4 separate regions of the Homo sapiens genome follow, and regions 1, 3 and 4 are each reported to be linked to region 2. Evidence: microRNA targets listed by miRTarBase, many of them from high-throughput screens and not tested one by one. Region 2 holds a microRNA gene; each other region holds the end of a gene's coding sequence.

Evidence for each region. The annotated mature microRNA hsa-miR-5010-5p reads AGGGGGAUGGCAGAGCAAAAUU and lies in region 2 at 5,230-5,251, shown strand. An mRNA with a match to its seed (bases 2 to 7 or 8) in the 3' UTR can be bound and repressed. Matches are read on the target gene's strand: a 7mer-m8 pairs with bases 2 to 8, a 7mer-A1 pairs with bases 2 to 7 and ends in A, and an 8mer does both.
Region 1: the mRNA of E2F4 is a reported target of hsa-miR-5010-5p. Seed matches in the 3' UTR shown: 8mer at 1,842-1,849.
Region 3: the mRNA of CITED4 is a reported target of hsa-miR-5010-5p. Seed matches in the 3' UTR shown: 7mer-A1 at 6,790-6,796.
Region 4: miRTarBase lists DIRAS2 as a target of hsa-miR-5010-5p. Seed matches in the 3' UTR shown: 7mer-A1 at 6,280-6,286, 7mer-A1 at 5,805-5,811 and 8mer at 4,652-4,659.

The regions. Positions count from the first base shown.
Region 1 is chr16:67,196,720-67,204,570 of GRCh38, forward strand. E2F4 (E2F transcription factor 4) reads left to right here. Exons shown (of 10, transcript NM_001950.4): 8 at 880-927; 9 at 1,148-1,192; 10 at 1,289-2,199. The coding sequence ends at 1,404. ELMO3 (engulfment and cell motility 3) reads left to right here and starts at 2,412. Exons shown (of 20, transcript NM_024712.5): 1 at 2,412-2,685; 2 at 2,834-2,874; 3 at 2,965-3,037; 4 at 3,232-3,282; 5 at 3,473-3,642; 6 at 3,732-3,831; 7 at 3,938-4,089; 8 at 4,171-4,249; 9 at 4,666-4,716; 10 at 4,801-4,923; 11 at 5,023-5,154; 12 at 5,258-5,359; 13 at 5,457-5,565; 14 at 5,678-5,814; 6 more. The coding sequence starts at 2,608. The coding sequence ends at 7,158. MIR328 (microRNA 328) reads right to left here and starts at 5,676; the gene lies at 5,602-5,676. RefSeq lists a silencer at 1,748-1,807.
Region 2 is chr17:42,508,979-42,515,978 of GRCh38, forward strand. MIR5010 (microRNA 5010) reads left to right here and starts at 5,210; the gene lies at 5,210-5,329. It overlaps ATP6V0A1 (ATPase H+ transporting V0 subunit a1), which reads left to right. Exons shown (of 22, transcript NM_001130021.3): 20 at 4,883-5,000; 21 at 5,311-5,482.
Region 3 is chr1:40,854,476-40,862,326 of GRCh38, forward strand. CITED4 (Cbp/p300 interacting transactivator with Glu/Asp rich carboxy-terminal domain 4) reads right to left here. Exons shown (of 1, transcript NM_133467.3): 1 at 6,579-7,851. The coding sequence starts at 7,652. The coding sequence ends at 7,098. LOC105378676 (a long non-coding RNA gene) reads right to left here and starts at 3,019. Exons shown (of 3, transcript XR_947239.2): 1 at 2,587-3,019. RefSeq lists a silencer at 7,675-7,754.
Region 4 is chr9:90,606,896-90,614,746 of GRCh38, forward strand. It overlaps DIRAS2 (DIRAS family GTPase 2), which reads right to left. Exons shown (of 2, transcript NM_017594.5): 2 at 2,937-6,968. The coding sequence starts at 6,932. The coding sequence ends at 6,333. Among named protein-coding and RNA genes, the nearest start is that of LINC01501, 28 kb to the left of the region's middle. RefSeq lists enhancers at 6,081-6,581, 6,582-7,082.

The DNA.
Region 1 (7,851 bases), not on the chromosome of region 2:
TTCCTGCATGTCCTCAACTGAACTTAGTTTCCTCCCGAAGCTTGCTTTCCACCTCTGCGCACCCAGCCGTCAGCCCTAGTTATCCAGGCCTGACCCTTGGCTCTCACTCTAGTTCTAGTTCCTTATCCCTCCTCCTTCTGCTGCCCACCCCATGCCAGCTAACTGAGGTCTGTCCCAGATGTCCCCTCCTATCCTCTGGTATCCTCAGCACTCAGGATGACCCCTGGCCACCTCTGTCCTGGATTCTTCAGCATCTTTCTCTTTACCCTGACTGACAGACTAATCTTTCTGAAATGCAGGCCTGACAGAAAAATGTGGCATTTCTCTGTTTGCAAAAGTACCTTTAATGGCTCCTTGAGGGCCACCAGATAAGATCTGAACTCCTGAGCCTGGCATGTGAAATCCCTCATAGTCCTCTCTGGTTGCATTTTCTTCTGCTTCCCCTGTGTCCTCCTGGCCAGAGGTTTGTAGTGGAGTCATCACCCTGTAGCGCCACCACCTCTGCCTGGTGACCTGACCCAGGGTCTGGTCTCAGTCTTGCACAGAGCAGGTGCTCAGCAAGGGTGGGACAGATGGGGTACCTTCTGTCAGACAGGGGGTGCATGCTGAGCCCAGAAAGAGGCTTCTGTGGCCTTTCCGAGTTAGAAAAGCTGTACCAATCGCTTGCAGGGGGCCTTTGGTACCCTGGGCTCAGCACTGAGGAATTCAGGTTTAGCAAGTGAGGCCAACAGACAGTGCCAGCTTGGCCTAGGCAGGACCTACATCTCCTTAGCTGTGTGGAGCCTCAGGGTGGGTGGTATAGGATCCGAGGAAGCCAGGGGGCTGTAGTGGGGCCAGGCTGGACCTCTGTGCCCTGAGCATGGCTTTCTTGTTTTTCAGTTTTGGAACTCCCCAAAGAGCTGTCAGAAATCTTTGATCCCACACGAGGTAGGCTGCTGCATTCCTCCCTGAGGCTAGGGGTAAGGGACACAGCTCATTGGGTCCTATGGCTGTTTTCTTGCCCTTTTGAGGACCTTGTTGTGGCGCTTATGGTAACTGGGGCAAAGGGTGAAGTTCCTGATGGGCAGGTGGGGTTCCCTTTCCTGGGCTTTGGTGGGTGGAGAGGTGGGAGCTGGAATGTTAGTAACTGAGCTCCCTCCATTCCCAGAGTGCATGAGCTCGGAGCTGCTGGAGGAGTTGATGTCCTCAGAAGGTGGGTGGCCCTGGAAGGTGGGAGTGGGTGTGGGCAGGGGTTGGGCTGCTGCTAGGGGAGCCCTGGCCCAGGGCCTGAGACTAGTGCTCTCTGCAGTGTTTGCCCCTCTGCTTCGTCTTTCTCCACCCCCGGGAGACCACGATTATATCTACAACCTGGACGAGAGTGAAGGTGTCTGTGACCTCTTTGATGTGCCTGTTCTCAACCTCTGACTGACAGGGACATGCCCTGTGTGGCTGGGACCCAGACTGTCTGACCTGGGGGTTGCCTGGGGACCTCTCCCACCCGACCCCTACAGAGCTTGAGAGCCACAGACGCCTGGCTTCTCCGGCCTCCCCTCACCGCACAGTTCTGGCCACAGCTCCCGCTCCTGTGCTGGCACTTCTGTGCTCGCAGAGCAGGGGAACAGGACTCAGCCCCCATCACCGTGGAGCCAAAGTGTTTGCTTCTCCCTTTCTGCGGCCTTCGCCAGCCCAGGCTCGGCTGCCACCCAGTGGCACAGAACCGAGGAGCTGCCATTACCCCCCATAGGGGGCAGTGTCTTGTTCCTGCCAGCCTCAGTGTCTTGCTTCTGCCAGCTCCTTCCCCTAGGAGGGAAGGGTGGGGTGGAACTGGGCACATGCCAGCACCACTTCTAGCTTCCTTCGCTATCCCCCACCCCCTGACCCTCCAGCTCCTCCTGGCCCTCTCACGTGCCCACTTCTGCTGGGCCTTTAGCCCTAGAACCTGCAGGTGGTGGGGGCGGCTACCAAGAAGGAACAGAGGTCTCTGGGGAGGAGTCTGGGTGGTCCAGCCCTGATGATTGGCCCCACCTCCTGCTGCCCCATAACCCTCTCTTCATTTCGGCTTTTTCATTTACCCTCATTTAGAGCCATTTGCAGAGATTTAGAAAGATTTACAGTAACGAATGGATTCCTATATAAAGATTATTTTTATACTTTTTGCAGCAAAAGGAAATTGTAATATTTGTACAGTGTTCAAGTGAATAAAAACCATGCCTAAGGCTAGCTCTGATGTGGTTCTTTGGGGACCCTCCTTGGGACTGTGCTGGACTGGCAGTGTGATTGGGTGGGTCACCTTGCTGGAACTAGGGGTGGGGCGGCCTCCGGCAGCCTGCCCTCCCCGCCCCCACCTGCCGCACCTTGGTGTGGGGCGGGGCCGCCTCGGCGGGGCGGGGCAGGCGGAGCCGTCCTACCTTCCTACCCCCAGACTCCAACCCGGAACTAACCTCGGCTCCCTTGGGAAGGCCGCGTTGCATGGCCAGGAGCAGCAGTCTGGGCCGCGAGTGCGGGACACCGAGGTCAGGTCTCGGAAAGGGAGGACCTCCTCGTCCCCAGGGGCCCCAGGCCAGGTGCACCCTTGGCCGCAGGTGCACGGTCTCCGGAAAGTGCAGGCGCCCACGTCCCAGCTGGACCATGGCGCCTCCGCGGAACGTGGTGAAGATTGCCATCAAGATGCGTGACGCCATCCCGCAGCTCATCCAGCTGGACCAGGTCACCCGGCTGGTCCCGCCTCCATCTGCCCCACTGCCCCACCTCCCGGTAGCCCCCTGGCCCTCGGGGCAGCCCGCCCCACCCCTCCCCCCAGGCTCCTCCCCATCCCTCCCTGCCCAGGCCGCGAGAATGACCACTCCACTTGCAGGCGAAGCCCCTGGCCGCTGTGCTGAAGGAGGTGTGCGACGCGTGAGTGCTGCCGGGCCAGGGCCTGCGGAGGGCGGGAGGGCAGGAGGGGCGGCGCCCCCTGCCGGCCTCGCTGAGCCTCGTGCCCCTCAGGTGGAGCCTGACGCACTCTGAGCGTTACGCCCTGCAGTTTGCGGATGGGCACCGGAGATACATCACCGAGAATGTGAGTCCCCTCTCCCCAGCCCCAAGCTCGGCCTTCCGACCCCTCTAACCCACCTGGCCCCGATAACTCTGGCTCTTCATCCCACTACCGGAGCGCGATCTGTTATTCACCCCCAGCCGCCCTCACCGACACCCCAGTTGATCAGTCCTCGGAGCCCTCCCTGACCTCGCTGCCTTTTCTGCTGTCTTCTCCAGAACCGCGCGGAGATCAAGAATGGCAGCATCCTGTGCCTCAGCACGGCCCCAGTAATGCCCCTCCCGTCCCGCCTTCCCCATCCCTGCCCCTTTGCTCCAGGTCCAGAGGCCCCCCGCCCCGGAGGCCCCCGCCCCAGCCCTGCCTTGCGCCACCTAGTTGACGCCCGGGGCCGCACACTTCCAGGTCCCACCCTTACCATGCCCAGCCTCTTCACCTCTGCTCCTGCTCCGTTCCTGCCAGGACCTTGAGGCTGAGCAGCTCTTGGGTGGGCTGCAGAGTAACAGTCCTGAAGGGCGCCGGGAAGCCCTGAGGCGCCTTGTTCCGCTGGCCTCGGACATGATCTTTGCCAGGGAGGTCATCAGCCGTAATGGGCTCCAGATACTAGGCACCATCATTGAAGATGGGGACGAGTGAGCACAGGGATGTGTGGGCTGGGGGAGATGGTGGGTCTTTCTGGTCCTGGGGTGGTCCTGCTCAGCCCCAGATGTCCCCCCTCCAGCCTAGGAGAGGTGCTGGCCCTCAGCCTGAGGGCCTTCTCAGAGCTCATGGAGCACGGCGTGGTGTCCTGGGAGACTCTGAGCATCCCCTTTGTGAGGAAGGTGGGTGGGCTTTCCTAGGGCAGCGGGTGGGGGCAGTGGAGCAGTGGGGCAGTGGTAGACCCGGTCTTCCATGGGGGTGAGGTGGTGACACCCCCGCCCCTTACAGGTGGTGTGCTACGTGAACATGAACCTCATGGATGCCTCCGTGCCTCCCCTGGCCCTTGGGCTGCTGGAGAGTGTGACCTTGAGCAGCCCAGCCCTGGGCCAGCTGGTCAAGAGCGAGGTGCCCCTGGATAGGCTGCTGGTGCACCTACAGGTGTAAGCCTCTGGGGCTGGGGTCCAGATGCAGGGAGCAGGGCTGGAGCCTGAATGTTCCACTGAGCCCTCTTCTTGCCATAGGATGAACCAGCAGCTGCAAACCAAGGCCATGGCCCTGCTGACAGCCTTGCTGCAGGGGGCCAGCCCTGTGGAACGCAAGGTGAGTGTCGATCGGTGGCTAGATGGGGGCAGCACCCGGTGGGCGCTGCCCCACCCTGAAGCAAAATCCTCTAAGCCCCCCTTTTTTTTTTTTTTGAGATGGAGTCTTGCTCTGTCGCCCAGGCTGGAGTGCAGTGGTGCGATCTTGGCTCACTGCAAGCTCTGCCTCCCGGGTTCACACCATTCTCCTGCCTCAGCCTCCCGAGTAGCTGGGACTACAGGCTCCCGCCACCACGCCCAGCTGATTTTTTTTTTTTTTTTTTTTTTTTTAAGTAGAGACGGGGTTTCACTGTGTTAGCCAGGTTGGCCTCCATCTCCTGACCTCGTGATCCGCCCGCCTTGGCCTCCCAAAGTGCTGGGATTACAGGCGTGAGCCACCGCGCCCAGCCTAAGCCCCCTTTCTTTCTACCCCCTCAGCACATGCTTGACTATCTTTGGCAGAGGAACCTTCGCCAGTTCATCTATAAGGTAGGAAGTGGTGGGCCAGGGGGACCTCTCTGCCCCTCCCTCCCCGTGAGCCCTCGCTTACACCAGGGACTGGCTGTCCTGCAGAACATCATCCACAGTGCAGCACCAATGGGCGACGAGATGGCTCATCACCTGTACGTACTGCAGGCTCTCATGCTGGGGCTGCTGGAGCCGCGCATGCGGACGCCCCTGGACCCCTACAGCCAGGTGTGTGTCTTTGGTGAGGACAAGGCAGGGGGTGGCTTAGAGCTTGGCCTTGAATCTATAATCTTGATCCCCTCCCCCGCCACCCAACACTGACCCCAGGAGCAGCGGGAGCAGCTGCAGGTCCTACGCCAGGCTGCCTTCGAGGTGGAGGGGGAGTCCTCGGGTGCCGGGCTAAGTGCTGACCGTCGCCGTTCCCTCTGTGCCCGAGAGTTCCGCAAACTGGGCTTTTCTGTGAGTATCACCCCTACCCAACTCCCCACCCCTGCCTCAGCCCAGGGCTGTTGTTCCAGGCGGCCGTGGCCCTTCTTGAACTGCCTGTGCCCACTTCCCCCAGAACAGCAACCCAGCACAGGACCTGGAGCGCGTGCCCCCCGGTCTGCTGGCCCTGGACAACATGTTGTACTTCTCCAGAAACGCGCCCAGCGCGTACAGCCGGGTCGGTGACAGGGTAGGGTGGGGGGGTGGCAGCATCCCCCAGGCAGGGTCCCCATGGGCTTAGCTGTGACTCCTTGCCCCATTCTCTGCGCCCCCAGTTTGTGTTGGAGAACAGCAGCCGCGAGGACAAGCACGAGTGCCCCTTTGCCCGGGGCAGCATCCAGCTGACGGTGCTGCTGTGTGAGCTGCTCCGTGTTGGGGAGCCCTGTGAGTGGCCTGGACTGGGCACAGCATGGCCAAGAGCAGGGGACGGAAGGGCAGAGAGGGCCAGGGGCTGTATGCACTTTCTCCCTGAGCCCCTCCTGCCCCCCCACTCCAGGCTCTGAGACAGCCCAGGACTTCTCACCCATGTTCTTCGGCCAAGACCAGAGCTTCCACGAGCTCTTCTGTGTGGGCATCCAGCTGTTGAATAAGACCTGGAAGGAGATGCGGGCTACACAGGAGGACTTCGACAAGGTGGGTGGGGTGGGAGCTGGGAGGCCTGGGCCAGGGCAGGGGGCTGATCTGGGTACAGAGCTTAGGCCCTGAGCTGAGCTTGGGCGGCCCCAGGTCATGCAGGTGGTGCGGGAGCAGCTGGCCCGCACTCTGGCCCTGAAGCCCACTTCCCTGGAGCTCTTCCGAACCAAGGTGAATGCGCTCACTTATGGGGAGGTGCTGCGGCTGCGGCAGACTGAACGGCTGCACCAGGAGGGCACACTGGCTCCCCCTATACTGTGAGTCTGGGGGGATGGATCCTCAGTCCTAGCCCTACCTTCCTTGGTGCCCCCTGGGCTACTCCCCAGGTCAGATGTGCTCAGTGACACCCCTCTATCAGGGAGCTGCGGGAGAAGCTGAAGCCAGAGCTCATGGGCCTGATCCGCCAGCAGCGCTTGCTCCGCCTCTGTGAGGGGACGCTCTTCCGCAAGATCAGCAGCCGGCGGCGCCAGGGTCTCTGAATGGGCATGGGCAGGGGGCAGAGGGCAGGCAGAGGGCAGGCAGAGGGCGGCTGGCTTGGTGTCAGGACCTCTCAGCACTCTGGCCCTCTTCCCTTTCTCCACGCAGATAAGCTGTGGTTCTGCTGCCTGTCCCCCAACCACAAGCTGCTGCAGTACGGAGACATGGAGGAGGGCGCCAGCCCGCCTACCCTGGAGAGTCTGCCCGAGCAACGTAAGGCGGGCAGGGGCGGGGGCCAGATACCTGCTCTCCCCAGACCGCCCTGGGCCCCGGGGCTGCCAGGGCTGCAGTGCTCAGCCCAGCCTTCTTCCTGCAGTCCCTGTGGCCGACATGAGGGCACTCCTGACAGGCAAGGACTGCCCCCATGTCCGGGAGAAGGGCTCCGGGAAGCAGAACAAGGTGAGTACAGCGGGCCAGGGGCTCCTTCCCACCCGCCCCCGCCTACCCTGTCCCCTGCTCAGTGTCCCCGCTCCCTTGCTTCCCCAGGACCTCTATGAGTTGGCCTTCTCAATCAGCTATGACCGTGGGGAGGAGGAAGCGTACCTCAACTTCATTGCCCCCTCCAAGCGGGAGGTGAGTGTCCGCCAGGCTGAGGTCGGCAGGTGGGCAGGGGAGGCAGATGGGCAGACCCTCACGGCTCTGTGCCACCCCCAGTTCTACCTGTGGACAGATGGGCTCAGTGCCTTGCTGGGCAGTCCCATGGGCAGCGAGCAGACACGGCTGGACCTGGAGCAGCTGCTGACCATGGAGACCAAGCTGCGTCTGCTGGAGCTGGAGAACGTGCCCATCCCCGAGCGGCCACCCCCTGTGCCCCCACCCCCCACCAACTTCAACTTCTGCTATGACTGCAGCATCGCTGAACCTTGACAGTGTGGCTGGCCATGGGCCACAGCTGCGGCCACTGCAGCAGCCATGAAGGGCAGTGGGTAGAGGAGTGCAGGCACCCTGACCAGCAGAGATTGCTGCAGAAATAAAGTCTGCTTGGCTCTTGGGATATGTTGAGCCAGCTCTGTACCTTGCGGGCTGAGCCTGTGACAGTGACAGTCTTCCCCTTCTGCCTTCAAACTTAGCTGGTGGATAAGATGGGGCATCAGGCCAGGCCACAAACTTTGACAGCTACGGTTGAGGGGCTGGTGTTCTGAAGGGGGTGGGGAGAGGCTGGGACTGCAGCCTTTCTCCAAGGTGAGTCCTCAGCCTCCCTCCATGCTGGGCCTGCAGGGAGGGTTGGCCTGTGGTCTGGGGGCACCTGCCAAGGGAGAGGCTGAGCTGCCGGCCTGCTGCAGGAGAACTGGCAGGGTAGGAGGCACTGCCCCAAATGGATGCCTTCCTGGACAGCGTTAACAGGGGCGTAGTCTGGGAGCCATCTCCAGAAGGCTCCTGACAATCTGACCTCAGTCCTCAAGCTTGCATGGCCCTGCCTGGTGTCCTTTGTAGGACTTGGAGTTCTCTGGTGAGAGGCATGAAGGGAGAGAGGCAGAAGGGCAGGGTCAGGATCCCCAGGCTGGTAGGAGGATGTGGGCTGATTCCAACAAGAGCCACTTCTGTGCAGGAAGACCCGGT
Region 2 (7,000 bases):
CCTCCCTGCTCCTCCTAGTGCTTGTGAGCAAACCTTACCCTTCCTCCCTGTCTGAGCCAGCCTCTTCCTGCTGCCCTCCTCAGCTTGATGATGCTTCAACTTAGAAGTGGTGGACCCTTCTCGGGGTCAGCTCTACCTCCATGTGACCCAGGTGAGAGGGAGACAGCTTTCAAAAGGAGGCTTTGCCTTCCAGATGCATCCCAAAGGAAATAATCCATCTGTGTGAAAGGAGTTCATATTATATCAGCCACATAGAGAATAACGGAGACTGGAAAGCAAATTGGCTAACTGTTCAGGCCACATCTCGAGTAGAAGGCCCTCTGGCTCAGCAGTAATTCACTTAGCAACATACACTCTTTAAACTGGGTTTTTAAAACACCTTGCTGCACTGTTTGCATCTTCCCCCAGCACTTCTCTCTAAAATGCCTAGACCCACAAACCATACCCTTCCCTTCCTGACTCTCGGTCCTCTCTAGGAGGGCAGTGGGATGGGAATGGGAAAGCCTTTGCTGTTCTGTGTAAACACAGGTAGGGCCTGCTCTTCCTGAAGCCTAGAGAGGCTCCTTTGCTGGCATCAAAGAGTGTCTGTGTTCCTGGACTGCTCATCTATGCAGTCCCTGGCTGAGCTACCTGGCAGGGATGGGTGGGGCGTGCTCCATGTTAATGAGGAGCCCAACCCTTTCCCTGGCTCACTACCTCCAACAACACTGCCTTTTAAATGTTTTCCTAGCCGAGCACCCACATTGTCAGAATGGTCTGACCAACTATTGTGTACCAGCGTTCTCGTTTGTAGCCATGTCCCAGGAGGTTGGACATCCAACAAGATAGACTCTAATTCAGCCTCCCCAGTCTCTGGCCACCCAGCTCACTCAGGGATTCAGCTACCCTTGGCTACCCAAGTAGTCTAAACATTTTATCTTTATCAGGCACATATACAGTCTGGTTCTCTGTAGCCAAATTTAGATACCCATGACATTTATCTAATGATTTCAAACCAAACAGGTTCCTAAAAAAACATTCAGCCTACTTCTAGAACTTCCCCATTTTGCTTGGCTGTGAAAATGTATTTGTCCCATGCAGGCCCTTGCTCCAGCCCAGTGGAAGCATTAGTACCTCTTCCTAGCGGGAACTCAGTCCAGCTACACACCAGAGCCAGGCCAGTGGTTGTCTGGGAAATCTTCAAAGGCCGTGACCACTCAGCAAGGGTCAGTGGCACCTCTCCCCACTGTCTCCTCACCAGGTGCATTCATCCCATCCATCCATGCATTCACTCACCCTCCGTGTTGTCCAGCACTATGTATAGTGCTGCAGAAACAAGAAGAATATAGTGCTTGCCTTCAAAGACCTCCCAAAGTGGGGAGATAGTCTGGATGACAGGTGCTGTAATAGAAGTGTGCCCCGGATGCTATAGGAGCACAGAAAGAGGGCAACTGATGAACACTGGGGTGAGAGTGGAAGAGGAGACCCTGGAAGACTCCCTAAGGAAGTTGTCTTACTCTGGTCAAGCAGGAGGCCCTGTAGAGGGAGTGGTGCAGACCCACCAGCATATGCAGCTTCACAGGGGCAAAACACCTGTAGGTCCATCACGTGTTGGGGACTAGCAAGTATTCAGCTTGGCTGGAGCAGAGGCAGGAGTGGGGAACTGGGGACAGGTGAGACTAGAGGTTGGCAGAAACCAGCCATAGTAGTTTTTGCCTCATTTGGACAACAAGGAGCCATCCAAGAGAGAGCGGTGAAGCTGATGGTGACACAGCCATGGCGCATTGAAATACCCCCAGTGGCTGTGTTGTAGGGTATATTGGGTTGGGGAGGGACAAGGTCAGGAGGCATAGACTCGACATCATCTGATGTGATTCAGGACAGAATGGCGAGCCTGAAGTGAAGTGTCTGTAGGATAAGTTGGAAAGGAAGGAACCAATATGAGATATTAAAGAAGTGAAAGCTATAGGTCCCAGTGCCTTAATAAAGGTAAGGAGTAAGAGAAGATTCGAGATTGACTCCCAGACTCTCCAGTCTGCTGGACATGGGAGATGGAATAGAAGTTGATCTCGGTGTGGTCAGAGGAGAGCAGTTACTGTGTTGAGCATGGAGAGCCTGTCGTTCCCCAGGAGAAGGAGTACAGCTGGCTGGAAATAGGCAAGGCAGAGATGGAGAGATCCACCTTGGAGTCACTCCTAGGGGCGACCCTTGAAGCCCTGAGTAGCAATCCCACCAGAAAGATGCAAGGGCTGAAGCTGAAACTTCAGAGAGCATCGGCATTTAAGGAAGAACCTTGGCTGGGCGTGGTGGCTCACGCCTGTAATCCCAGCACTTTGGGAGGCTGAGGCGGGCGGATTGCTTGAGCCCAGGAGTTTGAGACCAGCTGGCCAACGTGGTGAAACCCCGTCTCTACTAAAAATACATAAATTAGCTGGGCGGTAGTGGCATGTGCCTGTAATCCCAGCTACTCGGGAGGCTGAGAGAGGAGAATCACTTGATTCTCCTGGGAGGCAGAGGTTGTGGTGAGCTGAGATCGTGCCACTGCACTCCTGTCTTGAAAAAAGAAAAAAAAAAGGAAGAACCTCGATGGAGACTAAAAAGAACTGTCCAGAGAGGTAGGAGGAAAACCAAGGGATGGCAGGTATTTCAAAAAGGAGGAAGAGGCTATGGTGACAGACACTGCAGGAGCATGGACAAGGGCACAGAACATCTGTTAGCTTTAACAGCTGGGCCAGGCGCGGGGGCTCACGCCTGTAATCCCCAGCACTTTGGGAGGCCAAGGTGGGTGGATCACCTGAAGTCAGGAGTTTGAGACCAGCCTGGCCAACATGGTGAAATCCCATCTTTACTAAAAAATTAGCCGGGTGTGGTGGTGCGTGCCTGTAATCCCAGCTACTGAGGAGGCTGAGGCAGGAGAATTGCTTGAACCCGGGAGGCAGAGGTTGCAGTGAGCTGAGATCGCACCACTGCACTCTAGCCTGGGTGACAAGTGAAACTCCGTCTCAAAAAAAAAAGTAACAACTGGGAGGTTAGGGTGACCTTACTAAGTAGAGGCATTTTGTGGAGGAGTGAAGGTGGAAGCCAGGGTGCAGTAGGGTGAGGACTGGCTGGGCAGAGAGGAAACTGAGGCAGAAGATGTGGACAGGGACTCTGCAGCGATTCATGGTTGGTCATGGCCGATTGATACGGGCGTGTGCTGAGTGGCAGACTCATAAGTGCTGAGCTGGATTTCTCACCCAGTCCTTGCTTCTCCTGAGAACACCTGCAGGAAGCTGGGAATGAAGGAGAGAAGGCAAGGGTAAGGCCTGGAAGCGAGGCTTCTCTCCTGTCCTGCAGTTTATTCGGTGGGAGAAACTTGAGGTAGAATAAAAACACTGAAGGGATTGGCTGTAAGGGAGCCCAGTGGTCACTGCCCTCCCAGCCCATAGGAGTAGAGATCAGCACTCCTGGGAGCCATGGACTTCTTCCTCTCAATGCGGGCCCTGGGGCGGCAGCCAGCAGTGGTAGGAAAGAGCTCTTAACCACGGTGTTGGGATTTAGGGAACTCAGGGAACTAGGATTACCCTAGTTTTCAGGGTAAGTAAGGAAGCTTGAAGAGCCTGTTCCGGAAGAAAAGCCCAGAAATAGGCTAGGTGTCGACAGAGGTGAGGGAGAAGCAGACGTTCGCCCAGAGATGGCATGGTGGAGCCAGCCCCCTCCACGCTGGCTGCACCCCTGTGGCCTGGGCTGTTGTGGCTTTACCAGCCAAGCCACTTTCTCCCATCCCCATGTTCTCAGTGATTTCCCAAGGCATTTCTGGTGTCCTTTGGGAGTGGAATCACGTGGGTTTTGAAAGGAACTGCGGTGAAAAATAGACCCTGACCTGAGGGCAGGGGCCGATGGGGAGGCCACTGAGCCCTCAGGAGTGTCTGAAAGCTCAGAAGATTCTGGTCTGGGCTCTGCGGGGGGAAGCCCCATAAGGGAGCGCCTCCTGGTCTTTGGTCAGCTTGACAGAGAGGCCCAGGGAAAGTACCTGGGGCTTCCAGAATATACCAAATTCAGAAGCCCACATTCACCCCTGACTGTGCTTGGAGCAAACCTGAAAGTTCACTCCCAAGAGCTTGTTCCAGCCCATTCCTTTATTCTGGAAATAATTCTTGGTATTGAAAGGAAAACTGGGACAAAGGGAGCTTGAGGAAAACGAAAACAAACAAGAAACTGGAGATATGCTATTTAGTCTTAACCCAAACAGATATGCTGTTTGGCCTTAACCCATGTGGAAATTTGTAAACTTTGTCAGGATTTCCCTGTGCATGGTGGTGAAATCATGTAGGGAAAAAAAAATTCACCGTGTAATCTCTTTAGAAGTCACAAAAGAAAAAGAAGGTTATCTTGCTCCCAAAAGGCTGTAAAAAGAATAAGTAAAGTGGCCATAGAGGCCTAGTCTTCTCAGGACAGTGTCCGGGTTGAGAGTCTGTCTCCTGAAGCGCACTCTGGGGAAAATCCCTTCCTGCCCTCCTGCAGGTCCTTAGGGTCCCAGACCCAGACAGTCACTTTCTCAACAGAGTGCCGTCAACTCAGCACACACTCCTCTCTTGAGCACAGAGCCCCAGAGGGAGAAGAACAAATGTGTTGAAAAGAATCTTATTAAGATGTAGTTAATTAAAATGTAATGTATTGAGGGGAATGGAGGTGTCCCAGGTGAGGGCTAAGTCAGGCAGGATTTTTGGGGAAGGCATTGCCGAAATCACCACCTGAGCTCAACACTGGGTGCTTCTGGCCCCTCCAGAGTTGAGGTGCCATCCATGGGAAGTGCAGTCCCCTGCCCTGGCCCAGGTTCAAAGCGCCAAGTAGCCACAACTCAGAATGCCTGCACGTTCCCCTCCTAGCCTTATATCTTCTCTCTGGTTTCCTCCCACGACAGTTTGACTTTGGGGACACCATGGTCCACCAGGCCATCCACACCATCGAGTACTGCCTGGGCTGCATCTCCAACACTGCCTCCTACTTGCGGCTCTGGGCCCTCAGCCTCGCTCATGCGCGTGAGTACCTCTCTCCGGGCTCCGGAACTCTAGTTTCCCCCTCTGTGGGCGCACTGTCAGTTGGGGGGCTTAAGTCAAATGGAAATTACATGAAGGTTCTGGAATTATTCAGGTTCCTGAACCCAAGGAGAATGAGTACAGACAGGAGGCTCAGCACTTGTGCCAGGTTAGCTCTGCATGGTGGTCCCACTAAGGCAGTGGGAAGCCAGGATCCAGGGAACCCTAGAGCAGGGGGATGGCAGAGCAAAATTCATGGCCTACAGCTGCCTCTTGCCAAACTGCACTGGATTTTGTGTCTCCCATTCCCCAGAGCTGTCTGAGGTGCTTTGGACCATGGTGATCCACATCGGCCTGAGCGTGAAGAGCTTGGCGGGAGGTTTGGTGCTGTTCTTCTTCTTCACTGCCTTTGCCACCCTGACCGTGGCCATCCTCCTGATCATGGAGGGCCTCTCGGCCTTTCTCCACGCACTGCGCTTACACTGGTGAGGGGCAGTGGGGCAGGGCGGGCATGGGGGTGGATGTGTCCTTAGCTGCGGTGAGAGGGCAGCTTTTCTCCCACACACAGCCCTGCAGCTCTGTGCAGGAAAGATGAGCTGGCCCTGCACTAGCTTCACCTCAGGACACCCCAGCACCGGCATTGCCACAGAGTTTCGGAAAATGGTCACAGAAAAGCACAGCTCAGCCTTCCCTAGGCTCTAGGGAGATGTCCCTGGTGAGTGGTGTCAGGTCCCGCTCCCTGCCTTTAGCTGTCCCCAGTGCTCCTGATTTTGGCTTAAAGGGGCTGCTGGGGTCTTAGGGTTTCTGGTTTTCTCTCTGATGTGTAACTCTTCTGTCTTCAGAACAGTGGAAGCAGCTCTGGAATGTATGTTAAGTGCAGGAAAGGCTAGAACACGCTGCACCCCAGCTTTATCCTCTTTGTTCTGTCATTGTGCCAGGGGTCTTTGAGTTGGACCCCTGGCAGCTCCATTGTGGACCGGAGGGATTCCTGGCTCTATAGGGTGGAGGTCGGTACACTCACGCAGCTTCTTCACATGGGCAGGTTTGGGGTGGTTCTGTTTGTTTTCTTTAATGAAGCTTGTGACTCTTAATGGCTGTGTGTGGAGAGAGCATGAGTTCAGCCTCTGGGACTGGGAGAGCGGGGGTGTGGTCTGGGCTGTGACCACCTCAAACCAGCGTTGCCAGATGTAGCACATAAAAGTACAGTTTGGCTGGGCACGGTGGCTCATGCCTGTAATCCTAGCACTTTGGGAGGCTAAGGCAGGTGAATCACCTGAGGTCAGGAATTCGAGACCAGCCTGGCCAACATGGTAAAACCCCGTCTCTACTAAATATACAAAAATTAGCCAGGTGTGGTGGCACGTGCCTGTAATCCCAGCTACTCAGGAGGCTGAGGCAGGAAAGAATCTCTTAAACCCAGGAGGCAGGGGTTGCAGTGAGCTGAGATTGTGCCACTGCACTCCAGCCTGGGCAACAGAGCGAGACTCTGTCTCAAAAAAAAAAAAAAAAAAATAGGGGAGGGGTTGGGGGCCAGGCACGGTGGTTCACTCCTGTAATCCCAGCACTTTGGGAGGCCGAGGCGGGTGGATCACCTGAGGTGGGGAGTTCGAGACCAGCCTGACCAACATGGAGAAACGCTGTCTCTACTAAAAATACAAAAACATTAGCCGGGCATGGTGGTGCATGCCTGGAATCTCAGCTACTTGGGAGGCTGAGGCAGGAGAATCGCTTGAACCCAGGAAGTGGAGGTTGCATTGAGCCAAGATCGCGCCATTGTACTCCAGCCTGGGCAACAAGAGTGAAACTCGGTCTCAAAAAATAAAAATACAGGGTGTATTTCACATAAACAACAAATAATTTTTTTAGTATGAGTATTTCCCAAATGTGCATGGGATATGCTTATACTAAAAACTGGGGCAGTCTGTATTTTCTGTGGCTGTTCCACCTCAGACTCCACTTCTTTGGGTCTCTATTTTCTCCTTTATGTTGTGATTCTCTTTTTG
Region 3 (7,851 bases), not on the chromosome of region 2:
TGCAACCTCTGCCTTCTGGGTTCAAGCGATTCTACTGCCTCAGCCTCCCGAGTAGCTGGGATTACAGGCGCCCGCCACCATGCCTGGCTAATTTTTATATTTTTAGTAGAGACGGGGTTTCACCACGCTGGCCAGGCTGGTCACGAACTCCTAACCTCAAGTAATCCATCCACCTCAGCCTCCCAAAGTTCTGGGATTACAGGTGTGAGCCACCGCACCTGTCTGGGGATTGTTCTCATTTGTAGAGTCACGGAGGGTAGATATCCACGAACATCAAGTCCAGGTATCTCCGTGAAGCAGAAGTGTGGCCAGGGATGGAGCAGGGAGTCCTCCACAGCCCATTAGAGGGTGGTCTCCAGCGGGGCTCATTTGTATGCCTCTTCCCACAGAGGAGCTCAGGCTTAGGGCTTTGCCATAAAACGGGCACATCAGACAGCAGACTGCCCTAGCCCAAGAAAGGGTGTGAGCCAATCGTTTTGTTTCAAACAAACACATGTTTTTGGTCAAAATAAATATACGCTTAAGACAAAATAATTTTCAAACAATGTAGAAAGCACAGAGTAAAAAGTCAGACCACCCCCACACAAGACTTTTCAAACACACACGATTCCATTATACTACACATACGTTACATACATATACATAATACACATCTCTTTTTTATATAAATAGGATTATAATATTTTATTTTATTTTATTATTTATTTATTTTTATTATTTTAAGACAGAGTTTCGCTCTTGTTGCCCAGGCTTGAGTGCAATGGTGCAATCTCAGCTCACTGCAACCTTTGCCTCCTGGGTTCAAGTGATTCTCCTGCCTCAGCCTCCCAAGTAGCTGGGATTACCGGCACCCACCACCACACCCAGTTAATTTTGTATTTTTAGTAAAGATGGGGTTTCACCACGTTGGCCAGGCTGGTCTCGAACTCCTGACCTCAAATGGTCCACCTGCCTCGACCTCCCAAAGTGCTGGGATTATAGGCATGAGCCACCACGCCCAGACTATTTTTATTTTTAAAAAATTATTTTGAAAATTTGTTTTGCCAACCTTAGAGTTAACTACACCTCATAAATAAAAAATGAAATTTTAAGTTTAAAATGTATTAAAATTTTCCTGGACTCAAGTGATCCTCCTGCCTCGGCCTCCCAAAGTGCTGGTATTCTAGGTGTGAGCCACCATGCCTGGCCCAGCACTTCCTAATGCCCTCTGAGCCACACAGGGGGCGATGGTGAGCCTTACAGTCTGGTGGAGAAAGACCCCTCAGCGACTCTGACACACAAGGTAATAGGCCTTTGGATGTGGAAAAGGCCCTATGGAGGGCATTTCAGGCTGAGGAAATGGCACAGGCAAAGGAACAGAGGCTTGGCGGCACGAGGAACATCGTGCATGAGGAGCCTGGGGTGGCTGGAGTTGAGGGTGGGAAGGCACTTGGAGGCTGGGTGGGGCAGGGCTCTGTCCTTCTCGTCCCTGTGGTCATATTTCCCAGCCACAGCTCCACCTGAGCAGCTCACGGGTCAGGCACTTAACATCACCTTGGTTCATTCTCACAAGAAGCTTATCGTGTCTCTATTTGACAGACGAGGGGACTGCACTCAGAGTAGCTTCCTTTATTTCTTCTATCCATCAGGGCACACTTTGGGCCCTGGGCCTTTACTCATGCCCAGTCCCCCAACCTGTGTGTCCTCCCCAAGCTGACCCACATCCCACTCTTTTATCAGCACCAGCCCTCAGGGCCGTCCAGACGCTGAGCTGCTCAGCAGTGCCTCCTTAGAGCCCTCAACATGAGACTCTACGTTGCATGCTCCAGGCTGGCCAGATCTCAAGCCCCAAAGTATATGCAGGTGTCCTCTTCCCAGACCAGCTACAGGATAAGGGCCATGGTTGTTCAGCCACAAACCCACTTTGGCCAGGCAGCACTGCACTGCTTGCAGTGTGCTCTCAGAAACCCAGCCTCATGTGAATCTTTGCACACACATTCTTCAGATGTTGGAATTATTCTCTCCATTGGATGGAAGAAGGAATCAAAGCCTAAGGAGGCCCAGTAACTTCCTCTGCAATTCACAGCCTCAGAGTGGCAGATCAGCTCTGGGACTCTGCTCTTATCCCACCCAGGCTCAGGTCCTTGGCCAGATCCAGCCTGGGAAGGGGACAGGCCCTGGATATGGTGGGGTGGACATGCTCACCTCACCTCTTACTGAGGTGTGACTTGGAGTAATTCTCTGAGTGCCCCAGTTTTCTGACCTCTGGAATGGGGATAAACTACCTAGCAGTGCTATTTACAGGGTTGGGCGGTGATTAAAGAGAGACTGGAAAAGAAAGAGTGCCACTGGGCACTCCCCGTCAGTTCCCACCATGCCTGCACGCAGCAGCCACTCAGTAAGCACTTATTTGGTCTTATAGTTGGCACTAATCTTGTCCCAGCACTTCTAACAACAGGGTGGCATGAAGAGTTAGGCCACGATGGATTAAGGAATTCAAGAGGATTACTTAGTAATCAGCTAAACCACTTAAGCTGCCTGGGAAAAGGCTAGGATCAGACTGATCATTAATTTATTCGATAAATGACTGTTGAACACTTATCTGACCTGGAGTGATGACGATGATGATGACAATGACGATGATGATAATGATGATGACAATGACGATGATGATGACAATGACAATTATGATAGTGATGGCAGCGCTCAGTTATTGAGAATCTACCATGTGTGGGGTATTTTGTATAGAGTCTCATCACATCAAACCTGTAAGGTTGATACATTTACATTTTGTTGTTTTTGTTCTGTAATGGGGAAGGTGCTGGTCAGGTCTGAGACTAAGGTGAGGCAAAAGAGATACCCAGGGCATAAATTTAAAGAGTCCCTTGCTGTTGGGAACCAGAGTCCCCACCCCAGTGCTTGTGGTGAACACTGTGATGTGCCGCCCAGAGCCCCCTTCTATGAAATCATTGCCCTAGTCTGGGCACGGTGGTGCATCCTGTAATCCCAGCACGTTGGGAGGCCAAGGCAGGCAGATCACTTGAGGCCAGAAGTTGGAGACCAGACTGGACAACATGGTGAAACCCCATCTCTACTAAAAATACAAAAGTTAGCTGGGTCCGGTGGCACATACCTGTAACCCCAGCTATGCAGGAGGCTGAGGCAAGAGAATCACTTGAACCCGGAAGGCAGAGGTTGCAGTAAGCAGAGATCGCGCCACTGCACTCCAGCCTGGGCGACAGAGTGAGACTCTGTCTCAAAAAAAAAAAAAAAAAAAAGAACAAAAGAAAAGAGAAGAAAAGGAATCATTGCTCTAGCCCCCAGGAGTGCTGCTGTTGGTAGACAGCCGTACCCTGGCAGCTCCTCCAGGGATGAGCTTAGCTGGGGACAGCTGCCTTGCCCACAGTCACACCACTTCTCTGGGTGGCTCACATCCAGTGACTGATGGAGGCAGGAGTATAAAGGATTAAAATGGTCCAACTCAGGCCAACTCTGAAGGGCCCTTCTAGCTCCAGAGCTCCCAGCGGGGCTGGCTGAGGCTCCTGCTGGGCCTGCTTTGTAGCTTCTTAGCTCCTTCTGTCCCCTCCCTTCTGCAGCTGCTGATCCTGAAGGCACTCCCTAATACACCTCTTGCTAGCTGAATGTCATCTCAGAGTCTGCTTCCCAGGGAACCCCACCTGTAACAGTGTTGCTTGTTGGAGTAACCCCTTTCTAGCTGGTTAAAACACAGCCTTTCTAATATTCTAATACAAAGGCATCTCCAAAAAGTGCTGTTATCAGGGATAACAGCACTTACTACAAACCACACTGCTCTCAATACTTTACCTGCACTAACTTGTTTAATCTCCACAGCAGTTCTGCAGGGTGGTACTATTAGCATTCCCATTGTAGAGATGAGTTCAAGGGAAATTATACTTTTCTTGAAGGAAAAAAAACCACACACACAAATGACAGCTTGTTGATAAAATCCAGTCAACCAAAAGATAATTCAAAATAAAGAACATCAGCCTGGAAACTTTCATATGAATAGGAAAACAAAACAAAACAACAACAACAAAAGGATGGGAAAATGACTTGTGTCATGACTCAGTTCTCAACCCTGAGGAAGCCTGATTTCTGACCCCCAAGATCCAGCCTAGGTATAAGAGAGAAATCCACAGCACCCTTTGGCAACAGGTTGCTTTAGGAGGCAGCCCTGGGGGAGACATGAGCGACACCCTGTTGGCACCACGGAAGCTCGTGTGATTATCTTAGGAGAGCCAAGATGCGGGAGGTGTGGTGGCTTCCTTGAGGTCAGGCAGCTAGTAAGAGTTGCTTCTGAACTGGACCCTGAGGCTGTCAGACGACAAGCCCATTGCTCTCCTCACTGTCTCTACACGTACTCTCTCTTCCCCTGGTAGGGGATGGTAGGGTCAGAAGCCTCCAAACAGTATCAGGGATTTGGGGATCCAGGCTGTGGGATGCCCCAGCCTCATCTTCTCCCCTGTCCATCTGTCTGCTGTCCAACTTGTCAGCAGTCCCTTTTGGAGGGATGCAGGAGGGAAGAGCTCAGCAGCTGGACTCTCTCCTCCGCTTCCCCCTTAACTCTGGAAAGAGGCAGGTGTTGGGGTTTTCGTTGTAATCCCTTCCATATGGAGAGCACTTCAGAGTTTGCCAACTGCTTATCAACCCATCTCTGAATTTGTTCCTTACTAATTGTGAGGGTTATTGCTTTGTAATGTAGCAGGGCAGGGATATTAGCCCCATTTTACTGGTGTGGAAACTGAGGGGAGAGAGAAGAGAATCAGGGAAGTGTTCAGCTCAGGGTCAAACCCTCCTGTACTAATTCAGCCCTGTGGTTTCTGTCTCTGGCCTGGGGTTCTGGGCAAAGCAGCGGGGCGGTGGGGTGGGCAAATGCCAGCCCCTCTGAGCCCAGAGCTCAGGCCAGTCCCTTCCCAGAAGGCTCTCTTCCTTTCTCTCTTCATCCTGTCCCAGAAATCCCATGATCTTAGGGAGACCTTTATTCATTTGCCAAACACCTCCTGTCACCAGCCACATTCCATCCTGGTAGCTTCAGAGCACAGTAGGTCCTGGGAGAACTCACAGGTTGGTGGAGGGTCACATCCACAAAAAAGCCTGGCTTGAGAGTCAAGCCCAGCTGCTGGGGACAGAAGGTCTCAGCCTGGTGTTCCCCTCCAGTGTCCCTGGAATCCATGCTCTCCTAGAGAATGCCCCACCACCGCAGCGTCTCTGACCCGGCCTCCTCCCTGACTTCAATCTCTTTCCCAGCTTTTCTCCCACATCTCAGAAGCACCTAGGGATTTTTCCAGAGTGAACTGCAGAGGGTGGCCAGGAACTCACGCTGGTGCTCAGGACTCTGAGGCCAAATCCTGCCAGGCCTGGGCACACTCCACAACCCTCATGTGTAGAATGAGGACTGTGCTTGCCTCACGAAGTTGTCGTAAAGCCATTCGACCTTTCTTGTACCTTCTAGACACCCCACACCTTCCCCAAACATTCATCGTACTTGTGTGCCTTCCTGCCTTGAAACAGGCTCCTCTCCTAAAAACATATTCATCACTCAAGGCTCTGTTCATCACGTCAAATGTCACCGCTTCCCTGAAGCCTGAACTGACCCCAACCTCAACTATTAATAGCTGAAACTGCTCCCTTCTCTGGGTGTGCCCGCTTGGCCGGTCTATTGTCCTGGCTGTACAATCCCCCCCAGAACTATTTTCTTTTTTCTTGAGGAGTCTCGCTCTGTTGCCAGGCTGGAGTGCAGTGGCATGATCTCGGCTCACTGCAACTTCTGCCTCCTGGGTTCAAGCGATTCTCCTGCCTCAGCCTCCCGAGTAGCTGGGACTATAGGCGCGCACCACCATGCCCAGCTAATTTTTATATTTTTAGTAGAGACGGGGTTTCACCATATTAGCCAGGATGGTCTCGATCTGTTGACCTCGTGATCTGCCCGTCTCGGCCTCCCAAAGTGCTGCTTAGCACTGTTTTCTAGAACTCATCACAGTCTTCCTTGCAGCAAGATTAGTTTGTTTTCAGGCCTATCACCCACCTCCTCCCACCTGGGCTGTGATTCCATGAGAACATGCACCAGGTTGACACAGGGCCTGGAATAAAATCAGCACCAATTTGTAGAATAATAATTGCCGTCACTTACTGAGAACTGCCCAGGTATTTGGCACTGTGCTAAAGGCAGCGTAACTACCTGAGGAGACGGGGACCATCTCCCTCTGGGAAACCGCCTCAAAAATCAGAACGGATGGTGTCTTGGGCAAAGGAGAGAGTCAGGGTCCAAAGCTAGGCTGTCTGAACTCGGTGCCACCCAGCTCCTCTCTGGCAGAGCACCAAGCTCCCCCCACCCTACCCTAGGAGCTGGGAAGCCCAGTGGGTTACCCCACCACCCAGTGGCAGCCTCTGCCCTCCAGGTTGTGACATAACAATTGCACAACCCACGAGATATTTTTGAAAGAAACTGTCGGTTTCCTCTCCTGGGCACTGCTGGGGACTGTGGCCCCCATGCCATCCAGTGTCTTCAGCAACCTTGGGACTTTGGAAGCTAAATATAGTCAGGGCTCGGGGTGATAAGGAAATGAAAACGGCAAGACTGTAAAGTGACCCAGTTTTATTTTGGTTTTGGAGGCCAGACAGGGCATTGCTCCACGGGTTCGGGCTGTACAACCTTCCCCTCCTTGAGGTGGGAGGCCCAGCAACCACAGGGCCCAGGCAGCGGGGTGGGAGGCTCAGGAGATGGTGGCTCTGGGGACCCGATCCCGAGGAGAGAGGGGGCAGCAGGCAGAGGCCTGCAATGGCTCAGATTGGGGGAAGAGGGCGGCGAGGGGGAGAGGACACGATCCAAGAACCAGAGTCCGAAAGCTGAAGCTGGTCCGGTCTCTTTCACTTTACGGCCGAGGCTGGGGTCAGAGAAGTGAAGCCAAACTGTCCTCCCGCAGGAGGCAAGGCCTGGAGGGACGCCAGGGTCCCAGTCCGGTGCCGGGCCCTGCGCACACAGCCGCCGCCTCCACCCTCGCGGAGGGCGCGCGCGGGGCCCAGTCGCTGGGTGCAGGGTCCGGCGGGCAGTCGGGCCCTTTCTCCTCTCCGGCACGCCGGGCGGGCGCCGGCCGCCCTCAGCAGCTCACGGAGCCGGCGGGCGGCGCGGACCCCAAGTCCGAGAAGCAGTCGAACTCGCTCTGGCCCAGGAAGAGCTCGGGCAGCTCGCGCACGCGGTGCAGCCCGAGCTCCAGCTCCAGCGACGTCAGCGCCTCCTCGTCGATGAGTTCGGCGTCCATGCCGCCCAGGGCGTGCGCGGGCGGCGGCGGGGCTGCGGCGCTTGGCGCCGGCTGCGGGCCCGGGGGGCCTCCCGGAGCGTTGGGGGGCGCGGCCGCGCGGCCGGGGTACGGCGTCGCCACAGGCTGCAGGTGCGCGATGCCCGCGGCCGGCGGAGGCACGGCCGGAAAGGGCTGGAAGGAGGACGGCGGCCCGAAGGCCCCGTACGCCAGGGCCCCGGGTTGGCGGGGCGGCGGCGGCCCCAGCGGAGCCCCCCGCGGCCTCAGCCCACTGTCCAGGCCCGGGCCCGCGTACGGCGGCAGAGTCCGGAGCGCATGAGGGCCATGGGCGGCCGCGGCGGACGGCGGCCTCTGCACCAGGCGGTAGCCCTCGGCGAGCATCAGGTGGTCGGCCATGGCGGCAGGCCGGCTGCCTGCGGGGACAGCGCGCGGTGGTCAGCGCCGGCTCCCCCGGCCCGGGCCAGCGGCTGCTCTGCGGCGGGAGACCCGGGCACCGTGCGGTCCCTGCAGCTCGGCCGGGCGGAGCAAAACCAAACCCGACTGGTGCCCCGGCCCAGCCCACTACTGCGCACCTTGCGGCCGCAGCCTGGGGTCA
Region 4 (7,851 bases), not on the chromosome of region 2:
CTTGGAGGTTAGAAGCAAGATGGAGTCTCTTAGGTCAGATTTCTTTCACTCATAATTTTCCTATGTCAGATTTTTCTCACTGTCATAATTTTTGCAAAGATGGTTTTAGGGGCACCTGTCTTCAGTATTTGCAGGCATTGAAGAAGATTGAGGAGTTGTTAAGAATAGAGAGTGTGCCATGCTTAGATCAGGAGGGCAAGGAGGGGTGCTCCAGATGGCTGCTGGGGCTCAGACCCACAACCAGGGACATCACTGCCCACGTAGCCCTGATGGAACTCCCCAGGGTAGAGCATGTGGGCAGATGCTCTATACCTGAATTACAATTTTCTCTCAATGCTAACCTTGGAAAATGTTCTACATAGAGAAAGCCGAGACCCTCAATACCACTGACTGAAAAAAGTCACTAAAGAGGAACTTGATTTAACAAAGCCTACTCCCATCTCCATCCCGCCCCAAGACTTAGGGAGCTGGCAGGCATTCCCAACTAAACTTGGCTAACAGCAGTGATTCTTAAATTCAATTCCATATCAAAATTACCTACTAACACACAGTTTCTGTGAGGGGTAGGCGGTCTGGTTATCAATAGTTTGCAAAACTCCTTTACCAAGTGATTCTCATGTGCAACAAAACTAAAGAGCAAGTAGATTACAGCCTTGCATGTCAAAGTGTGGTCTCAGACCAGAAGCAGGGACATCACCTAGGAGCCTGATAGAAATGCAGACTCCCGGGCCCCACTCGGCCCTGCTGCCTCAGAGGCTATGGAATCACAAGACCCTGAAGTACTTCATTTGCACATTAAAGTTTGATAAGCACCAGAATACCCTTTAATGATACCTAATAGGGTCGGCTGATTGTCATTATCTCCGTAAATTGGAGCCCTGACTAATGTTGCAATAATGACCTGAAGCTGGGCGGAGGGTTGGAGTAGGGAGGGGCATGCAGACAGCAAGACCTGGAAAGCTGTTGATAAAGAGGCTGGAAGAAGCGGAAGTTTCTGGTGGTTTTTGTACTTGGGTAGTTTGATTTTCACTTTGCCGCCAACCTTCCAGATAGAATGCTACATAGTCAGCAGATTTTTGTATATTTCCTCTGAAAGCTCAATATATGACAAGCCAGCTCTGTGCTTTGTGCTTATCATTAAATTAACCCTCAGGGCCACCACCCTGCAGACGTTAATCATTCCCATTTTGCAGAAGCACTAAGAGGGCAAGAACCTCCCCAGTGTCACTTAGCCATTCCGTGGCAGAGTGAGGATTTCGTTTTTAGTGTTTGATGGATTTTTCCTGCATCATCAAAATTAAGCTTTATTTCACAATTAGTGTGGAAAAAGAGAAATAAAGACCAAACAGAAGCAGTACTCAGCAACAATGCTAGGGCAGAAACTGTCCCCACAGGGTTGACAAGAATGGCATGCCAGGTTCTGGATAGAAATAGAATAATAATTAAACATTAATCAGGCTGCACTTTGGCCCACTTCCTTGTTGCTAAAAGTCACGTAGCACTAGATCCTGACCATTTGTATCTCTTCGTTCCTGTAGATAAGATTTCTGGCATTAAGGTTATAAGATGGTTTAAGAATTGATCTGCATCCCTGTTGTTCCCATAGACAGGACCTCTGACATTAGAATCATAAGGCTTTTGTTTAAGGATCACTTAAGATTTTTTCAGCCCCCAAATTCCAGCACCCAATTTGAAGACCCCACAGAAGGACGGAATCAGCATGAGATTGCAGCTTCTTCATCCTCATCCCACGACTTCACCCCAAACTCTTTGACCAATCAATGATTTCCACACTTCATGCTGTGGCCCACTCCAAAACCCTTAAAATCACTAGCCCCACAGCCCTCTGGGAGATGGATTTGAGGTTTCCTCCTATCTATCTCCTCACTGGGTGACCCTACAATTAAACCTCTTGCTCTGCTGCAACTCCATGTCTCAGGCATTGGCTTGTCCCAGACTTAAAACACCATCATTTTGTCAATGAAAAGAATCACTCTATAAAATTTTTGAAGACATTTATTCTGAGCCTAATATGAGTGACTGATGATCCTAGACACAACCCCAGGAGATCCTGAGAACATGTGCCCAAGGTGATCTGGCTACAGCTTCATTTTATACATTTTAGCAAGACATAAGACATCAATCAATACATGTAAGATGTACACTGGTTTGGTCCAGAAAGGTGGGATAACTCAAAGTGGGGGCTTCCAGGTCATAGGTAGATTCAAGAATTTTCTAATTGGCAATTGGTTGAAAGAGTTAGATTATTATCTAAAGACTGGAATCAGTAGAAGGGAATGTCTGGATTAAGATAAGGGCTTATGGAAACCAAGGTTCCTATTATGCAGAAAGAATCAATAGAAGGAAATTCCTCCTACCAGACCCAAACAGTCTATCATTCTTCAGATGTTTTAATGTTAATGCTGGTCAGTTGTGCCTGAATTCCAAGAGGAGTAGGATATAATGAGGCATGTCTGATCCCCACTTCCCATCATGGCCTGAACTAGTTTTTGAGTTAACTTTGGAATGCCCTTGGCCAAGGGAAGCATCCATCAGTCAGTTGGGGGGCTTAGAATTTTATATTTGGTTTACAATTTAATAGCCTGGGGTTGTGGAGGAAAGCAGGATTAAAAAAAAAGAGAAGGGAGTTTGTCTTCACTTCTTCTATTTTGACACAAGTAAGGCCCTGCCCTACTCCTTCCCTCTCTCACCTTAACCTGTCTGGATCTTCTGCTTCATTTCCACCCAAAGACAGGGAGCAATGGGAAAGTTTCACGGGACACCCCAGGGTGAGTTATTGTTGCCTATTGCTAGTTCTGCACAGAGCCTGATATCCTCCTATTGTGGTCATAAGCACATAACAGCCGCTGAGGGGTCACCAAGTCAAGGTCATCCTAGACCAGCTAACCCCTTAAGAAATAGCACCACCTTCCAGCCAGGGTGTCATAACTGTAGCTTTATTGTAATATCTCCCATTATTTCCAGAACATCACTGGCAACTAGAAACTTGTATGCAAGGGTGATTTTTATAACCGCAGAGTAAATAAAATATAATAGAGAATAGACTTGTAACAATAAATACACTTTAAATATAAATATACACATTGATATCCCACACATATAAAAGTCATGCTCTGCAAATACTTTGTATACACACTGTCCTTGTGGGGTATGAATTCCAGGATGTGTCTTCAAGGATTTACATGTGTCCTATTAGTTGTAGATATTTCCAGAGAACTTATGTAGAAGCAACACATTACAAATTTTGGGGAAAAAAATTAAGTATCACAGAGCAATTTTTAAAATATTTAATACATTTTTGTTCTACAAAGAATGAGCATTTCTTAAATATTACAAACAGTGAAACAAATATACTAGCTTACAGATATGTACAATTTATGACTTTATACTTCAAAAATGCAGGAAGATAAATTATATATTTTATATACATGTAATTTTAGATAGAATGAACAATTCAATATTGCTCTTGTGTTGGTCTTGCTGCATTGTATGCATGCCCATGGCTTGTCGCTGGATGGAGGAGGGGCTCATGGGGATAGAAGGGAAGTCATGGAGCCCCATGCTCATGCCCAGAGCGCCATCTTCAAAGCAATATTTAATTAAATATTAACTTATTCTGCCTGGGTCAAAAACTGCTATGCCCATATGCAATGTAGGATGTGTTTTCAAGAACCACAGCTACATATTTGGGAATGGAAACGTACAAATGCTTTAAAAAAATCTAATTCTGTGATACTAACTCCTCAAACTCTGAGTCAATTGGGGATCTCCTAAAAGACGATTTTGAGATAACCATTGATATCCTCAGTTCAGCTCATAGAAAACGATCTCAAAATGAAGACCCATAATTGAGGCTTCAATAGCCTTCCTAGCCTATAAATTCACAGAAAAAATATGAAGGAAAAAATGTGTCCTGAATGAAATCAGACTTTCAGTAATTACAAACTTCTCATGCTGATGAAGCCCTGAACACTTAAACATGTAGAAACTGATTTGAAAGGGATAAAAGAAATTCTGACTTACAATCAGTAGAAATGGGATGGTTTGCAGGAATATCTCACATTAAAACCTTATTAATACTACAGTCAGTGGCAAAGATCGCATTCTACTGTTAACAAAGAACCCAATCAAAATCTATAGGTCTACTTTGGCCATGAAGTTCTGTTTCTTCTTCCATTTAACCTATACCCAAATTAAAACTTGATCATCTCTCTCTCAGAATAGAAACAGAAAAAAAATGTCGGGACAAGTTGAAAAACAAATGTTCCAGAAAATCCGCCAACTAAAGATCTCATTGCGAATGCTGTGCAACAGCTTTTTAGAACAGAACAATCCTGCTTGAGGAATCTGAAGGGGGCCACGGGACTGGCCCAAATGCTCTTCACCCCCAGCTGGCTCCCACGCCACTTCTCTGCTTTCTCAGCTCAGCATGAGTGTTCCCCCTGTAAAGTCAGGGCGGTTTTGTTCTAGGAGATCATGGAGTCAAGCAGTTCTCAAAGGCACCTCCCACGCTCTAAACACATCCCAAGGGTGAGTTATTGGGAGACCAGAGAGGATGAGATCAGGACAAGGGAACTGAACCAGAAAAGGCTGAAGAAAACTAGGACATATTGAGAGAGCAAGTGTGCTTTGGGGGATGGAGATGGCCACACTGCTGCTGCTGCAAGCCCTGCATAGGAGGGACAGGAGAAACAGCAGTTGCAGGAGGTGGCCTGGTCAAACATCCCCAACTTAAGCCCTCCCTGTGCTGACACTGCCACCCAACAGCCATGCAGCCCCCACCCCCCCAGGCAGGCCCACGTGGGACTGCAGCTCCTTCTGCCTGCCAGGCGGGTGACAGGAAGACTGCTGAGAGGATGATGCCACAGTTGGGGCCAGTAAATGTTCTGCCAACTGAAACAAACAGGAGATCTAACAGGCACTATCAGTGGGAGTTTTCAGGAAGCCAAGTCCAACCAGGCTCTACGATGGCAGAGCAATTAAGCTGAGTGGGCTCTTCCCAGGGCAGAGAAGCCTGCCTGTCTCCAGCCACCATCCTATCCCCAAGCTAACACAGGAAACCTGAAATAGCTGTAATTTGGCTTGAAAGATTAAAGATGCACACAAAATCATTAAGAGAAAAAGATAATTGTTTCTAGAGTGAATACTGTATTGAACAGCTCTTAGAAGACACGTATAATGGAACATGCAAGAGAATTTACTATTATTTAAATGCATTTTCCAGGAACATATTTCCAATACAGATAGATCATCAAAAACACAGTGAATAACTTCTGTTTCAAAGTATTTCATTAAGGTGCAAAGTGTGGCATATACATGTTTGTGACACTACAAAAATGGATGTGCTTCTGGTTGTCTGATGGCCTTTGCTGGCTGCTACCCAGCTGGGTACAGATCGAGTTATTTAAGAGAAGAAAACCACCTTGGAGGAAAAAAACGTCTAAAAATAGTGAGTTTATTTGCTTGTATTTAAAATCTGAGGGCTGAAAGAAGTTATACTCCTCACAGGTCAAAAGAAGAAAATCACATTTCTAAAACCCTCGATGTATAACACACAGGAACATTATTGCGATGTTTTAATACTGTCACGATATCCTCACTTAAAAACTGAAGAACTTCCGACAGAGCAGCACACTGTTAGTGCACTTATCCCTGCACATGAAGATAAATACTCTAATAGCTTAAAATGATACTTCCTAACTAGGTCTAGGTAAGGTGAACACATCCCCTCAGGGTAGCAAGGCTCCTAACAGGCCAGGTGGGAATTAAGAACGGACACCCTTTGGGGGAGAGGCTGTGTTTTTTAATCCCCTTTAAAAAAGTGTAAAATGGACCAAGTGTGGTCCACTTTGGACCATCTGATCTTCTCACCTCTTCCTGCCCCTCCCCTCCCCCAAAGATGTGATTGGCTTCTGTCTGGGGTTGGTGCAGGTAACTCTAGGTTAACACGCTCTCACATGCACGTAGATGACATTTAGTCCTCTCGGTACATGTTGCTTTGTGGGTACCAGTCCTCCCTCCCACCTTCGGGTGTTCATCGCCACCTTCAGCAATTGCTGGCACCTCTCAGTTCCCAGGGATGCTGAGTGTGTTGGTTTTCACTTGAACCGCCTGGCAGATTCTGTGACTCCAGAGTGGGTGGCTTACTGTTGGTGGTGTGAAACGCCCTCTTAAGGACAATAGGACGCATCTCGATTAAATGCAATGTTTAACACGTGGGCATTATACATGCTACCCTGACGACGGTGGGTGTCATTTTGGGGGAGTGAGGTGCCGGGGACACACAGCTGCTCCTCCCGCAGGAAGGGCCTTCACATGATCACGCACTTGCCTTTGAGCTTCTCTTTCCTTTTCTGCTGCTTGCTCTTTTTCCCGTCGATCTGGAGACTCACGGTCCTGCGCTTCTCCAGGTTGAGCAGCTCCTGGAAAAGCTCCTTCACGTTATGGTTGAGCTTGGCTGAGGTCTCCATGAAGGCACACTTCCATGTGCGGGCCAAGGCCTCCGCCTCGCTGCTCTGCACCTCGCGGCTGGGGCTCTCATCACACTTGTTCCCCACCAGCATGATGGGGATGCTCTCCACGTCCCCTTTGATCTCGCAGATTTGTTCGTAGATGGGCTTGAGCTCCTCCAAGGACTGTCGGCTGGTAATGGAGTACACCAGGATGAAGGCGTGCCCTTTGGAGATGGACAGCCGCTGCATGGCCGGGAACTGGTGGCTCCCCGTCGTGTCGGTGATCTGCAATGTGCATATGCTCTTGTCACAGCTGATCACTTGCCGGTAGGTGTCTTCCACCGTCGGGATGTAGCTCTCCCGGAATGTGCCTTTCACAAACCTCAACACCAGGGAGCTCTTGCCAACACCGCCAGCCCCAAACACGGCCACCCGGTAATCGTTACTCTGCTCAGGCATGTTGCTGGAGAGCTCCAACTCTCAGCCAGGACGCACCTAGCAAAGGAACCAGATGTTTGAAAGAATTAATAATTAAAATATAAAAACATTAATAAGGATAGCTCTACCCTCTTTTGATAGCTTAAAAATGGGAGGTGATAACATTTAAAATAGCGACAATTCTAAATCCAATAAATTTGGTCAATCCGCCGTTTTCAAAAGGACAGACGATCTACTCAGGGGCTCACTGGAGCCCATCTGTTTCTCTTTATTGGACCATGACAATGAGCATCTTTGCTCCCACATAGGCCCTAAGCCCAGGTAAAAGATGCAAAGTGAGCCCGAGAGACAGCACCAAGGAAAGGCAATGAGAAGATAAATTAACTACCCCCGTAAAAACACAAACACACATATGCACACACACATCACCATCATCAACAGCAGCATATCTTTGCTGTTTTACCTGAAGTACTGAGTACCCAATATACTGGTCATCATAATGTGTGTGTGTGTGTGTGTGTGTGTGTGTGTGTGTGTGTGTGTGTGTGAGAAATACTGGGAGAGGGAGATGAATGAGGGAAAAGGATGTTCTAATATTTATTCAGTGTTTATATTAACTCATGAAATCCTCACCACTCTGCAGGAGTTGGTGCCATTAGCTCTGTTGTACAATGATGAAACTGGAAACAAGGAAGAGATCGGGAATGGAATGTCTCTGATGTTACACAGCAATAAGAGGGAAGGCTAGGATACAACCAAAGCATTGTGGATGTCAATGCCCATCCCATAAGCTGTCTGTAGACAGAGCTGGTCCCAGTGACTTGGGCGTTACTCAGGCCATAGTATAGATTGTCTCCATTAAGTATGAAGAGTTAACTAATAAGTGTGGATAGTCATTTCATTCATCAAAATTAAGATGATTATATAAGCTTTATTTTTA